Linked DNA regions of Homo sapiens: all the other regions are linked to region 1. The links come from fine-mapping of genetic effects on gene expression. A gene starts in region 1. Each other region holds a variant in brackets. All regions are shown on one strand. Distances are from middle to middle. Region 1 holds the start of ZNF891 (zinc finger protein 891). Region 2 overlaps ZNF10 (zinc finger protein 10). Region 3 overlaps ZNF140 (zinc finger protein 140).

What was found. PIP is the estimated chance that this variant, and not a neighbour inherited with it, causes the effect.
Region 2: its variant is the best candidate, but not a certain one, in a credible set for the expression of ZNF891 in whole blood (TOPMed, PIP 0.61).
Region 3: its variant is the best candidate, but not a certain one, in a credible set for the expression of ZNF891 in sun-exposed skin (GTEx, PIP 0.90).

Annotation. Positions count from the first base shown.
Region 1 is chr12:133,128,466-133,132,711 of GRCh38, forward strand. ZNF891 (zinc finger protein 891) reads right to left here and starts at 1,809. Exons shown (of 2, transcript NM_001277291.2): 1 at 1,762-1,809. It overlaps ZNF10 (zinc finger protein 10), which reads left to right and starts at 2,162. Exons shown (of 5, transcript NM_015394.5): 1 at 2,162-2,289. RefSeq lists silencers at 1,425-1,604, 1,975-2,214 and enhancers at 2,265-2,544, 3,627-3,796.
Region 2 is chr12:133,152,089-133,156,334 of GRCh38, forward strand. ZNF10 (zinc finger protein 10) reads left to right here. Exons shown (of 5, transcript NM_015394.5): 5 at 3,415-4,246. Among named protein-coding and RNA genes, the nearest start is that of ZNF10, 24 kb to the left of the region's middle. RefSeq lists an enhancer at 3,121-4,246. The variant C/T (reference allele first, on the strand shown) is at 1,826.
Region 3 is chr12:133,105,451-133,109,696 of GRCh38, forward strand. It overlaps ZNF140 (zinc finger protein 140), which reads left to right. Exons shown (of 5, transcript NM_003440.4): 5 at 60-1,978. The coding sequence ends at 1,201. It overlaps ZNF891 (zinc finger protein 891), which reads right to left. Exons shown (of 2, transcript NM_001277291.2): 2 at 1-4,246. Among named protein-coding and RNA genes, the nearest start is that of ZNF891, 23 kb to the right of the region's middle. The variant G/T (reference allele first, on the strand shown) is at 2,285.

The DNA of each region.
Region 1 (4,246 bases):
TACTAAAAAATACAAAAAATTAACCGGGCATGGCAGTGTGCGCCTGTGATCCCAGCTATTCCAGAGGCTGAGGCAGGAGAATGGCTTGAACCCGGGATGTGGAAGTTGCAGTGAGCAGAGATCCTGCCATTGCATTCCCGCCTGGGCGAGAGAGAGAGACTCTGTCTCAAAAACAAACAAACAAACAAAAACAAAAATTAGCTGGATTAGCCGGGCGTGGTGGGGCCTGAGGCAGGAGAATCGCTTGAATCCGGGTGGTAGAGGCTACAGTGAGCCGAGATCACGCCACTGCACTCCAGCCTGGAGACAGAGTGAAACTCTGTCTCGAAAAAAAAAAAAAAGTAGAAAAACAGAGACAAAGTAAAAGAAAAATTTAAAAATTAAGAGCAAAACTTACTGTAATAGGACCCCCCTCCCCAAAAAAGACCAAAACAAAACAACAAAAAAACCAAAACCAAATCTACATTTTTGAAAAGACTATGTACACATATACCTTATAGGAGTAATCAAGAAAAAAAGGCCTAGATAATTAGGTTCAAAAAAGAAAAAAATAACAATTACAGCAGTAAAATATTAAAAAGTGGTGATTTTAAAAATCACCATAGAAATTACTTACAGTGATAAAATAGCATGGGCAATTTTATGCCAATAAATTTGAAAAATTAGATTAAAAACAATTATCTAGGAAAGGTATCTAAAACAGAATACGAACTAAAAAACCTAATCAATGAGACTTTTTAAAAAATTGAGTCAGGGCCGGGTGCGGTGGCTCACGCTTGTAATCTCAGCGCTTTGGGAGGCCGAGGCAGGCTGATCACCTGAGGTCGGGAGTTCCAGACCAGCCTGACCAACATGGAGAAACCCCATCTCCACTAAAAATACAGAATTAGCTGGGCGTGGTGGCTCATGTCTGTAATCCCGGCAACTCACAAGACTGAGGCAGAAGAATCACTTGAACCCGGGAGGCGGAGGTTGCTGTGAGCCAAGATGGCGCCATTGCACTCCAGCCTGGGCAACAAAGAGCGAAACTCTGTCTCAAAAAAAAAAAAAAAAAAAATTGAGTCAGAAGTTAAATGCGTACTAAATATTTTAAGACCAAATAGCACCAAACTTTTGGAGGCGGGCGGGGGGCGGTGAGGGGTGGTGACCTGTTTTACAGAATAGAAGAGAGACTGTGCTGTCCAAATTATTCATGAAGCTTGTAAAATCTTGTTAGTATAACGGGCAAGGATAGTACACAAAAAGATTAAAACACAATCTTGTGAGCATAGGTGAAGTCAAAGGGAAACAGCCAATTGAATACACCAGAGTATTAAAGAAATAAAACCATATCGCATTCAACCACAGTATAAGGCAATAGGTGAAAAAAACGATGGCTGTGATTCAACTCATTACTAGGTTTAGAGATTCAAGAGAGGCTGCTGGACAGAGGCGTGCACCCTTTAGCCCTCCCGTGTTGCTTAGAGAAGGAGGCAAACGCGCATCCCCGGCCCCCCAGCGCTCCCTGCGTGGCACCCGCAGCCAGCCCGGGACCCCTCCGCCCCGCGCGCCCCTGGTCCCCACTCGCTCCCCGCGCTCCACTCGCACCCGGTAAGTAGCCCCTCCTCCCTCAAGGGCCTCTCCCACCGCCGCCTCCCGGGCAGGCTCCCTGCTGCTCAGACTCCCGTGAGGCGATCCCTGCACGCAGGAGAACTCAGCGGGCCAGGCTGATCCCACGAGGGACTTGTCCCGGGTGAACGAGCCACAGGCCCGCATGCTCACCCGTCCTCAGTGCCTGCCTCCAGGCGTCCGCGGTCCCGCCCGAGGGGGACGCGAGGCCGAACTACGTTTCCCAGGAGCTCCTGCGCCGCCCCGCAGAGGGGCCTGGTCTGTGCGTCACGGACGCGCTCTGGGCCGAAGGCCCGCAGGGTCCGGCACAGAGTGGCGGCTGCGGCGCCGGCGACGAATCGCCGGCTCTAGGGTCCCGGGGCGCGCGGCTGACGGGCTGGGGGCGGAGCGTGGCCTGAACGCCAGGCTGGGGCGCGTGCGTAACGGTGTGTGTTGTGGGTGCGTGTGCGTGCGTTCGCAGCAGGGGCGGGCGTAGGACCAATGGGGGCGGGGCGCGTGCGCGTGCGTGACGTCAGGCCACGGGGAGGTGGCGCCGCCGTGCCGAGCCGGCCTCAGACTCACCTCTGACGCCGCTCTTCGCGCTCCGCTGGTGAATGGAGTCGCGTTCTCTGTTTTGCTGTTGCTGCTGCCTTTGTGACGGGATCGCTTTCTCCCATCGAACCTTCTAGTTGCTTATTGCAGGTATATACGAAAGTGCTGAATTTTGTGTTTGCATCGTCATCAGGCGCGTGTTGAGCCCTTTAGTAATGTAGCAGTGTATTAGCTTCGTATTTCTAGGTAGACGGTAATTTCGTCAATGAAAAAATTTAACGGTGATCGTCACCCCTTGCCTCAGTCACTTTCTGTCCCTCGCGCGGCCCCGGCGTTCACGGCGGACGTTCTTGTTCTGTGGAGAATAACGGCTGCACCTGGAGATTGACGCAGAGTGGGCGGCGGTGGTGGTAAGTTTGAACCAGATATTTTCAGTAATACAAAATAAGGTTTCTTCTAGTCTAACTTCCATTTTTCCCCCCAGCTGGGATAGATGTTTAAAATTTTGCATATGGCCTTTCTAGTATTTGTTGAAATAGTGACGCCGATTCGTGTGTGGTCTTTTAAAAACAAATCCTGCATCTCTAGCTCTTAGCTTCCTCATCTTTGTTTTGTTTTTTAATCAGATAGATTAACTGAAGGCGTGTTTGTGTGGTTAATCTATTTTTTTTATTTTCAGAGACAGATCATAAGTTTAATTACTATATTTTTATTTTCCCTTGACACTAGATATATATACGCCATCTAACACATAATATGAGTGTCAAAGATAAGGTTAACATCAAGATTTCGTACGTAGATCCCACCCAAAGTGTATGCAGAAGGTGAACAATTTCAATTCCAGCTATACATTAATTGCAGAAAGATACTGTTAATTAAAAAAAAAAAAGTAAAAGGGAAGGCAGGATGTCACCCAGAATGCCAGCCAACAAGTGTTATTAGGTTAGAAATGACTGCAGTTAGGTCTCCGAGAACTGGATAGCACAAATCCTCCCTACCCTTTTGAAAATTACCTCCACACTAACTTTTCTCTTGTGACATAACTAATCTCTTCTGTTTTACTAAAATTGTCCCCCATCTTCCAAAGCCTCTTGGATGGTAAGTTGCACACGCTCCTGCCTCTTTTTGAAAGTTACATTTGTTTTTTGATTACTTCTCTCAGCATGCATTTCTTTAGCTCTTAGTATATGCTAGTCACAAGGGCAGAGATTTGAGATACACATCATAAATTAAATGAGAATTTCTGCTTATCAGTATTTTATATAAGCACTGTCTGGAAATTCTACTTAGGACAATATTTAAGTAGATATGAGGCTTACCTTCTGGAAAAGAGATTACAAAATTATCCTTGTTAATTAATTAACTAATTAAGTCCCCAAAATGAGAAGAGATTCAATTACTATCAATAATTTGTAGTAAAGTGACTGAAAAGGAAATATATAAGCTAATAGATTGATTGCCGTCCTCAACAAGTTAGCACATACTTTTATTTTTAAAAAGTCTTCACAATAGGAAGAAAATAATTTTAGCTAGAAATATATGTGAACTATATGAGAAAAACTTCAAAACCTTACTAGGCAATTCTTACTAGAAGAATAAAGGATGAGTAAGAATAAAAACAGTTCTGTTTATAGATTATATTCAATTGTCAAGAAAATCTGAGAATTTTTTTTTTTTTTTTTGAGATAGAGTTTTGTTCTTGTTGCCCATGCTGGAGTGCAATGGCTCGATCTTGGCTCACTGCAACCTCTGCCTCCTGGGTTCAAGCAATTCTCCTGCCTCAACCTCCCTAGTAGCTGGGATTACAGGCGCCAGCCACCATGCCCAGCTAATTAACATATGCCAGTCACAAGGGCAGAGATTTGAGATACACATCTTAAATTAACAAGAGCAACAAGAGCGAAACTCCGTCTCAAAAAAAAAGTATTTTAAGGAAAAAGAAATTTCTTATTGTTAATATCTCTGTTGTGCCTACAAGAGACTCTTTTACTTTCATCAGCAGTACTCTTTCTAGCATGTCTCATGTCAGCCAGGGCTTTTAATTCTTCTGGCTATGAAGCAAGGTTGGGACAAGATATGATATAGGCCACCTTTGTCTGTGTATGTG
Region 2 (4,246 bases), 24 kb after region 1:
TCTCTGTCTGTTGACGTGCTTGGTTTCAGCGCTTGCACGTGTCGCTCTCCTAATTGTTACCACTCACTCTAGCATCTTGTGCTTTCGTTTGTCATAGAATCACTTCTTGCATTTTTGCCTCTCTTTGTTCTTTCATGTGACCCCTTCCCACAACTCAGTTCTCTGTGCAAGCTCTGGAGTGGGACTCTTATCACCTTCTTTTCTGAGAGTTTGTTTTCTGCCAGGTAGAAAACTGCTGCAGAGAGCTCATAATTCCTGTTGCCTCAACTCTCCTTCCTTTCCAGAATGGCTGCTCACAGAAACACCAGTTTTTCCTACTGTACTTTAGATCTTTTTTTCTTTTCGAGATGGAGTTTCACTCAGTCTCCCAGGCTGGAGTGTAGTGGCGCGATCTAGGCTCACTGCAACCTCCGCCTCCCAGGTTTAAGCGATTCTTCCGCCTTAGCCTCCCAAAGAACCAGGAATTACAGGCATGCACCACCACGCCCAGCTAATTTTTGTATTTTTAGGAGAGATAGGGTTTTACCATGTTGGCTAGGCTGGTCTCGAACTCCTGACCTCAAGTGATCCGCCCACCTCGGCCTTCCAAAGTGCTGGGATTACAGGCGTGAGCCACCATGCCCAGCCTCTATCTAGTTTTGTATTTAATGTTTTAAAAATTTATTTATAGGCATTTCCCTGCATCTCAGACTTTGAGTGTGATGTAAATTAAATCTGAGTCTTACTTGTCCTGTAATTTAGCCTCAAGTTCTTTCCCATGAAGGCTTTTATGATTCCTCATTAAGTATTGGCCTCTTCCTCTTCTGAACTTCCACTTAGTTTAAATCTCTACTTTGAAATATTATCATAAGCTCTTTTTTACTTTTTAGTATTTGCCTTGTAGGTGATTGTATCAAAATGGTATCTCAAAGCAAGTCTTTCTTTGGGACCATGGGAGGAAATATTGTTATATTTTCTTTTTATTACTTACCTTCTTTCTTTCTTTTCTATTTTGTTCATCTAGTAAGCTTTCCTGAATGTCTGTTGACAAGTATCCAAAAATAACAATTATTAACTGGACCCAGCAGTTTATATTTTTATTGAGAATTTATTGTCAAAAGAAATACTCAGACTTCATGGGCTTAAAGGCATGGAGTTTTACAGAATCTACAAGGCTGTTAAATTCATTATCAAATCAAAAAATATAATGAATGATGATTTTTAAAAATCAGATGATTAGTTGATTGATGGGTCCAACAGACTTCGACAATAACTTACTGGCATGGTTGTATTACATAATATGTGGAAGATTTTAGGATATTAATAAAACACCTCATTCTTATGACCAAACTCTCCACTCAGAATTGTCCTCCATAAGTGCTCAGCACCCCCCTTATCATAGATATTCTTCATAGAATCTTCCAGTTGGCATTTGTAGGTTGAAAAACTTCTCCATAAGATTTTCTGATGTTCTGGGTTGGGGAAAGGGAGGAAAGGGTGGTGTATTTCCTATTAAAAATCATCAGGATGGGGAAGAAACTAGGAACTAACTAAGTGGTAAGGGACAGGACTGGTCGGGGTGGGATTGTATAAGGAAGTCATTTAGGGACCAGGCCTGGCACAGGGATCATTTACCAGGTGTATTAGTTTCCTGGGGCTGCGGTAACAAAGAACCAGCAGTTAGGTGGCTCAAAACAACCAAAATGTATCATGTCACAGCTGGAGGCTGTTAAGTCTAAAATGAAGATGTCAGTGGGGCTCTGCTACGCTTCTAGGAGAGGGTCTTTCCTTATCTCTTCCAGGCTCTGCTGGCCCCAGGTGTTCCTTGGCTTGTGGATATATCATT[C/T]CAGTCTTGGTCTCCATGTTCACATGGTCTCTTCCCCTGTGTCTGTGTCTTTTTTATGGAGGACCACCCTCATACTGGATTAGGGGCCCATCCTATTTCTGGTACTACCTCATCATAACTAATTACATCTGGAAAGACTGTATTTCCAAATATGGTCATATTCTGAGATACTGAGGATTAAAACTTCAACATACCTTTTTGTCGGCGGGGGGGATACAGTTTAACCCATAATACCAGGTAAGAGTGGAATGTCACCCCACTTATGTAAGATGAAGTGGTATCATCAGTGTATTTTTTAGGTTTGGGATTATATGTTTTACCTGAAAGACATTGAGAAACAGATAAAGCTCTTATTCAAGAGAAATAATTTGCAGTAATATACACAGGTAGCAGATGGCAGAAATTCTAAGAGCGTATGGGTCAGGCTTCAGATTCTAAGTTCACATCTTGTGGTAGTAGTCCTATCAGTTGTTAAGTCCTTATGTTTCAGAGCGAAGAAATCAAAAAAATGAGAAGAATGATGATGATTATTGTAAATCTTATTGCTTTGACCATAAATGTGCCAGAGACTGTAATAGGCTCATGCTTTATATAATATAATAATCTTAAATAACAAATACTGTCATCCTTAGATTACAGATAAGCAAAATGAATTCTTCAAAGTTTAGCAACTCGTCTAAATTCACCACTAGTCGTAATATAAAACTTAGAACTTGCATCTTGGTAACTTTTGTGCAGTTACTCTTCCACCTTGTCATGTAGCTGCTCTGAGAGGTCTGTTGTGTCACTCATCTGGGTGTTATTCTATAGTGCTTCTGTGATTTGGATAGAAAGCATTGCCTGACGTATGGCTGCATTCATGGTTTAAGAATACTAAATTGGGCCGGACGCACTGGCTCACGCCTATAATCCCAGCACTTTGGGAGGCTAAGGCGGGTGGATCACCTGAAGTCAGGAGTTCAAGACCAGCCTGGCCAACATAGTGAAACCCTGTCTCTGCTAAAAATATTAAAAATTAACCAGGCATGGTGGCAGGTGCCTGTAATCCCAGCTACTTGGGAGGCTGAGGCAGGAGAATCATTTGAACCTGGGAGGCGGAGGTTGCATTGAGCCAAGATTGTGTCATTGCACTCCAGCCTGGACAACAAGAGCGAAACTGTCTCAAAAAAAAAAAAAAGAGAGAGAATACTAAATTGATAGTAATGTGAAGAATGTGTGTCAGGGGAAAGTCCTGACAACAAGTAGACAGGTGAGGAACTTAGACTGTTAATATCTGGATTAGAAAATGAGAGTGCAGTCCTTTTTATGGAATTTCCCTTATTTCTACCCTCACCATTGATACCCTGATCCCATGTGTCATGCTGTGTCCTGTGGCTTCTCCTTACTCCTTTTGCCCTTTGTGAGTACTGTATACCACAATGCATTTATTGTTTACCGCTCCATTCTTCCTTTTCTCATTCTCTATCAAAGTTATAAAGCCATATTTGAAAGCAACTGTGTACATCTTGCATACTTTGTCTCCACATACATCCTAGCATTCTCACCTTAATACTCTGTTTAGTTACACAAACATTTTTCATTTCTTTCAGATTCAGAGACTGCATTTGAAATCAAATCATCAGTTTCCAGCAGGAGCATTTTTAAAGATAAGCAATCCTGTGACATTAAAATGGAAGGAATGGCAAGGAATGATCTCTGGTATTTGTCATTAGAAGAAGTCTGGAAATGTAGAGACCAGTTAGACAAGTATCAGGAAAACCCAGAGAGACATTTGAGGCAAGTGGCATTCACCCAAAAGAAAGTACTTACTCAGGAGAGAGTCTCTGAAAGTGGTAAATATGGGGGAAACTGTCTTCTTCCTGCTCAGCTAGTACTGAGAGAGTATTTCCATAAACGTGACTCACATACTAAAAGTTTAAAACATGATTTAGTTCTTAATGGTCATCAGGACAGTTGTGCAAGTAACAGTAATGAATGTGGTCAAACTTTCTGTCAAAACATTCACCTTATTCAGTTTGCAAGAACTCACACAGGTGATAAATCCTACAAATGCCCTGATAATGACAACTCTCTTACTCATGGTTCATCTCTTGGTATATCAAAGGGCATACATAGAGAGAAACCCTATGAATGTAAGGAATGTGGAAAATTCTTCAGCTGGCGCTCTAATCTTACTAGGCATCAGCTTATTCATACTGGAGAAAAACCCTATGAGTGTAAAGAATGTGGAAAGTCTTTCAGCCGGAGTTCTCACCTCATTGGACATCAAAAGACCCATACTGGTGAGGAACCCTATGAATGTAAAGAATGTGGAAAATCCTTCAGCTGGTTCTCTCACCTTGTTACTCATCAGAGAACTCATACAGGAGACAAACTGTACACATGTAATCAGTGTGGGAAATCTTTTGTTCATAGCTCTAG
Region 3 (4,246 bases), 23 kb before region 1:
GCCTTATTTTATTCAATACAGGAAAAAGAAACATTCACTTTTTTTTTGGTATCTTTCAGTTTCAGAGTCAAGTGGTGAGATCAAAGACTTTTCACCAAAAAATGTCATTTATGATGACTCATCCCAGTATTTGATCATGGAAAGAATTCTAAGTCAAGGCCCTGTGTATTCCAGTTTTAAAGGAGGCTGGAAATGCAAGGATCATACTGAGATGCTGCAAGAAAATCAGGGATGTATTAGGAAAGTAACAGTCTCTCATCAAGAAGCCCTGGCTCAACATATGAATATCAGTACTGTGGAGAGGCCCTATGGATGCCATGAATGTGGAAAAACTTTTGGTCGACGCTTTTCCCTGGTGTTACACCAGAGGACTCATACTGGAGAGAAACCATATGCATGTAAGGAATGTGGCAAAACCTTTAGCCAGATTTCAAACCTTGTGAAACACCAAATGATACATACTGGAAAGAAACCCCATGAGTGTAAGGACTGTAATAAAACATTCAGTTACCTTTCATTTCTTATTGAACACCAGAGAACGCACACTGGGGAGAAACCTTATGAATGTACTGAGTGTGGAAAGGCCTTTAGCCGTGCCTCCAACCTCACTCGACATCAAAGAATTCACATAGGAAAGAAACAATATATATGTAGGAAATGTGGTAAAGCATTTAGCAGTGGCTCAGAACTCATTCGCCACCAGATTACACATACTGGAGAGAAACCTTATGAATGCATTGAATGTGGGAAGGCATTTCGCCGTTTCTCACACCTTACTCGACATCAGAGCATCCATACAACCAAAACCCCGTATGAATGTAATGAATGTAGGAAAGCTTTCCGTTGTCACTCATTCCTTATTAAACATCAGAGAATTCATGCTGGAGAAAAGCTCTATGAATGTGATGAATGTGGTAAAGTTTTCACTTGGCATGCATCCCTTATTCAACATACGAAGAGTCACACTGGAGAGAAACCCTATGCGTGTGCTGAATGTGATAAAGCCTTCAGCCGGAGCTTTTCCCTCATTCTACATCAGAGAACTCATACTGGAGAGAAACCCTATGTATGTAAGGTATGCAACAAATCCTTCAGCTGGAGCTCAAACCTTGCTAAACATCAGAGGACACACACTCTTGACAACCCCTATGAATATGAAAATTCATTTAATTACCACTCATTCCTTACTGAACACCAGTGAATTTACACTGCAAAGAAAAACTATGAATGTATGGAATTTTTTAAAAAGAAGTATAATGCCTTACTTCAGAGAACTCTTGGAAAGAAGCCTTATGTGAAAGTGATGACTGTGAAGTAATATGGCCCACACTTTATTCACCACCCTGGAGAAAAAAAAACCCAGGAATATGTGGAAAAGCCATTAATAACCACTCTTTTATTTTTTTGCAATAACAAGGTGAAATCAATATTGTTGAGAAGATTCTTCCATCTGGTAATGTTGAGAAGACTTCATTTGGTAGGAGTCCCTTACTTTACGTGTGTAAATTCCTACCAGGAAAGAATACATATCCAATAGATTGGAGAAAGCCAGAGATTAGCCCTCATTCCGCATCTGTCAACCAGGACAGAAAGCATGGACAAGGGATGAGCTTTACAAAGATGATGCACTTTGGAGATCAGAAAATTCATATTTAAGCAAAGTGATACAAACACAGTGATTTGGGAATGCCTTCATTTACAATGCAATACTTACATTTTAATACTCTTGTAGGAGAAAAAGCAACTGTATAAATGAATGTAGAGTGACTTTCTGCAATATTTCAAACCTATATCAGAGAATTACACTGTGGGAAAACTACCATTGTAATAAGTGTAGCAAAATCTCCTTAGATATCTGAAAAGTCATACTGGATGGAATCTGTAGGAAACGGTTCTATTTTGAGGGAAGGGGGATTCCTTTTTGTTTTTTAAGTGAATTCAGAAAATGTTATAAATAAATCTTTTGGTTTATTATAAACCTTCTGCTTGCTGATTTTTTCCCACAGCATGTGATTCTGAAAATGTAACTACAATATTGACATAAAAAATAAACAGTAGTTTTTCTTGTTGAAACATACAAACATAACAAAGTGTTTTTAGGTGTTTTATGATTTTAACTTTCAGACAGAGTTTGGATTTAAGGTAATGCTGACAGTTATCCTTGAATCTGACTATAGACATTTGTTATTCAGTGTGAAACAAATATAAGATACATCACAGAAAATTACCAAGGTATTCTTCCTGTTTTGTTCCATGTACGGTGAAAACCGTTCTTTTGTAAGCA[G/T]GTATTTAAAACTGTTCTGGCATTACCACCTGCCCAGCTGACAAAGGTCACACCATCAGGGTTAGTTTGCCTTAATCAGGAAGGTAAGCAATTTTATTTTGTAGAAAGAGAGGTAGAGAATATGAATAGGAATGAATTTAGTGAGCATTAATGTAATGGCTGCATTGAGGGCACATTTGTAGGAGGTGTTATTAGATAAATATAAGTAATTTTGTAAGAGGTGAAATTTATAAAAGTTTTAGCCCAAAAACACCTTATTTACATGTACTAGAGTTCTAAATACATTATCAGAAGTGTATTTCCTCAAACCTGCCATTGGCATGCCATATTGGTACATACATTTAGAAGCTTCTCAAGTTTCCATAAGAGTTGTTTCAGAGAGGCTGATTTATCTTACAATAGTGTACAGTCTGACTCGAATACAAGCAGCATGCCTTACTACGTATGGGTATCTAATATCTGATTTGATTTTCTCAAGCAGCATGCCTTATTACATATGGGTATTTAATATCTGATTTGGTGTCCTCAAGCAGCATGCCTTATTACATATGGGTATCTAGTATCTGATTTGGTTTTCTCAGGCAGGAATGGTTTGTATCAGGGTAAAAATCAAGTTACCCTGTCAGCAAAATTAGGATATGAAAAATTCATTATTTATTTATTTAAGAGTATACTCAATTTCTCCCATTATCTGCTCCACATCCACTTTCCTTCCTACTGTTTACTCTGTGGGGATGCACCTCATGAACTATATCAGAGGTCATCAAGCTACAGCCCATGGGCCAGGTATTCATTTACATAGTCTATGGCTCCTTACCTCTATAACTGAAGAGTTTAATATACAGCCATAAAGGTTAAACATTTACTATCTAGCCCTTTACAGAAAAACTTGGCCAACCCCTGACTACATCAAATCTTTGCCCTCTAGTTTTTGTTGAGTGCAGCCAACATTGAGAACGTTTACTTTGGAGCAATCTCCAATTAACCAAAGTGATACAAACACAGTGATTTGGGAATGCCTTCAATTACAATGCAATACTTAAATTTTAATACTCTTGTAGGAGAAAAAGCAACTGTATAAATGAATGTAGAGTGAATTTCTGCAATATTTCAAACCTATATCAGAGAATTACACTGTGGGAAAACTACCATTGTAATAAGTGTAGCAAAATCTTCTTAGATATCTGAAAAGTCATACTGGATGGAATCCAGTGTCCAATCTTTTGGCATCCCTGGGCCACATTGGAAGAATTGTCTTGGGCCACATATAAAATACGTGAACACTAATGATAGCTATCAGTTATTGTGGCTCAAGAAAATTCTTCTTCTGGTGTAGCCCAGGGAAGCCAAAAGATTGGACACCTCTGCTTTAGAGGGAGATGTAACTATCAATGAATTATTATGTTCATTTTTTCCCTTAGCCAGAGAAAGGCCAAAAGACATTCCCGTCAGGGTATTAAGAAATACATTGGTGAGGAGTTTACCACCATCCTTGGACAACTCTGTGGTACCCACCCTCTCTAGACTGTAGATGATGCAGAACTTCTATAATGAAAGTAAGATCCCAATTTCAGTAGAGATCATAGGATCTTGGCATGGGAGGGGTTGGGTAAAATCTGCACAAGAGTCCAAGGGATGCACTGTTAATGAGAATTTTAACCATATAGGTGGCAATGGCTAAATGATCATAGGGTTCCTAGAAATAAATTGATAGCCCACAAACATACTACTTGACATATGGTTGAAGCCAGTTCACTTAAATATTCTCAAGTTCACTTAAATATTCTCAACTAAGGGAGAGGCAGGTCCCTTTAAGAAAAACTATTGCAGTGGGGGACGGGGGGCTCATATGTACACTGTGAAAAACTGCTAACCTCTTTTCATACTGAGCTAAAATATCCTTCAGAAATAAAGATGTTTCAGAATAAAAATAGAGGAAATTTACGGTAGCATTCTTATGCT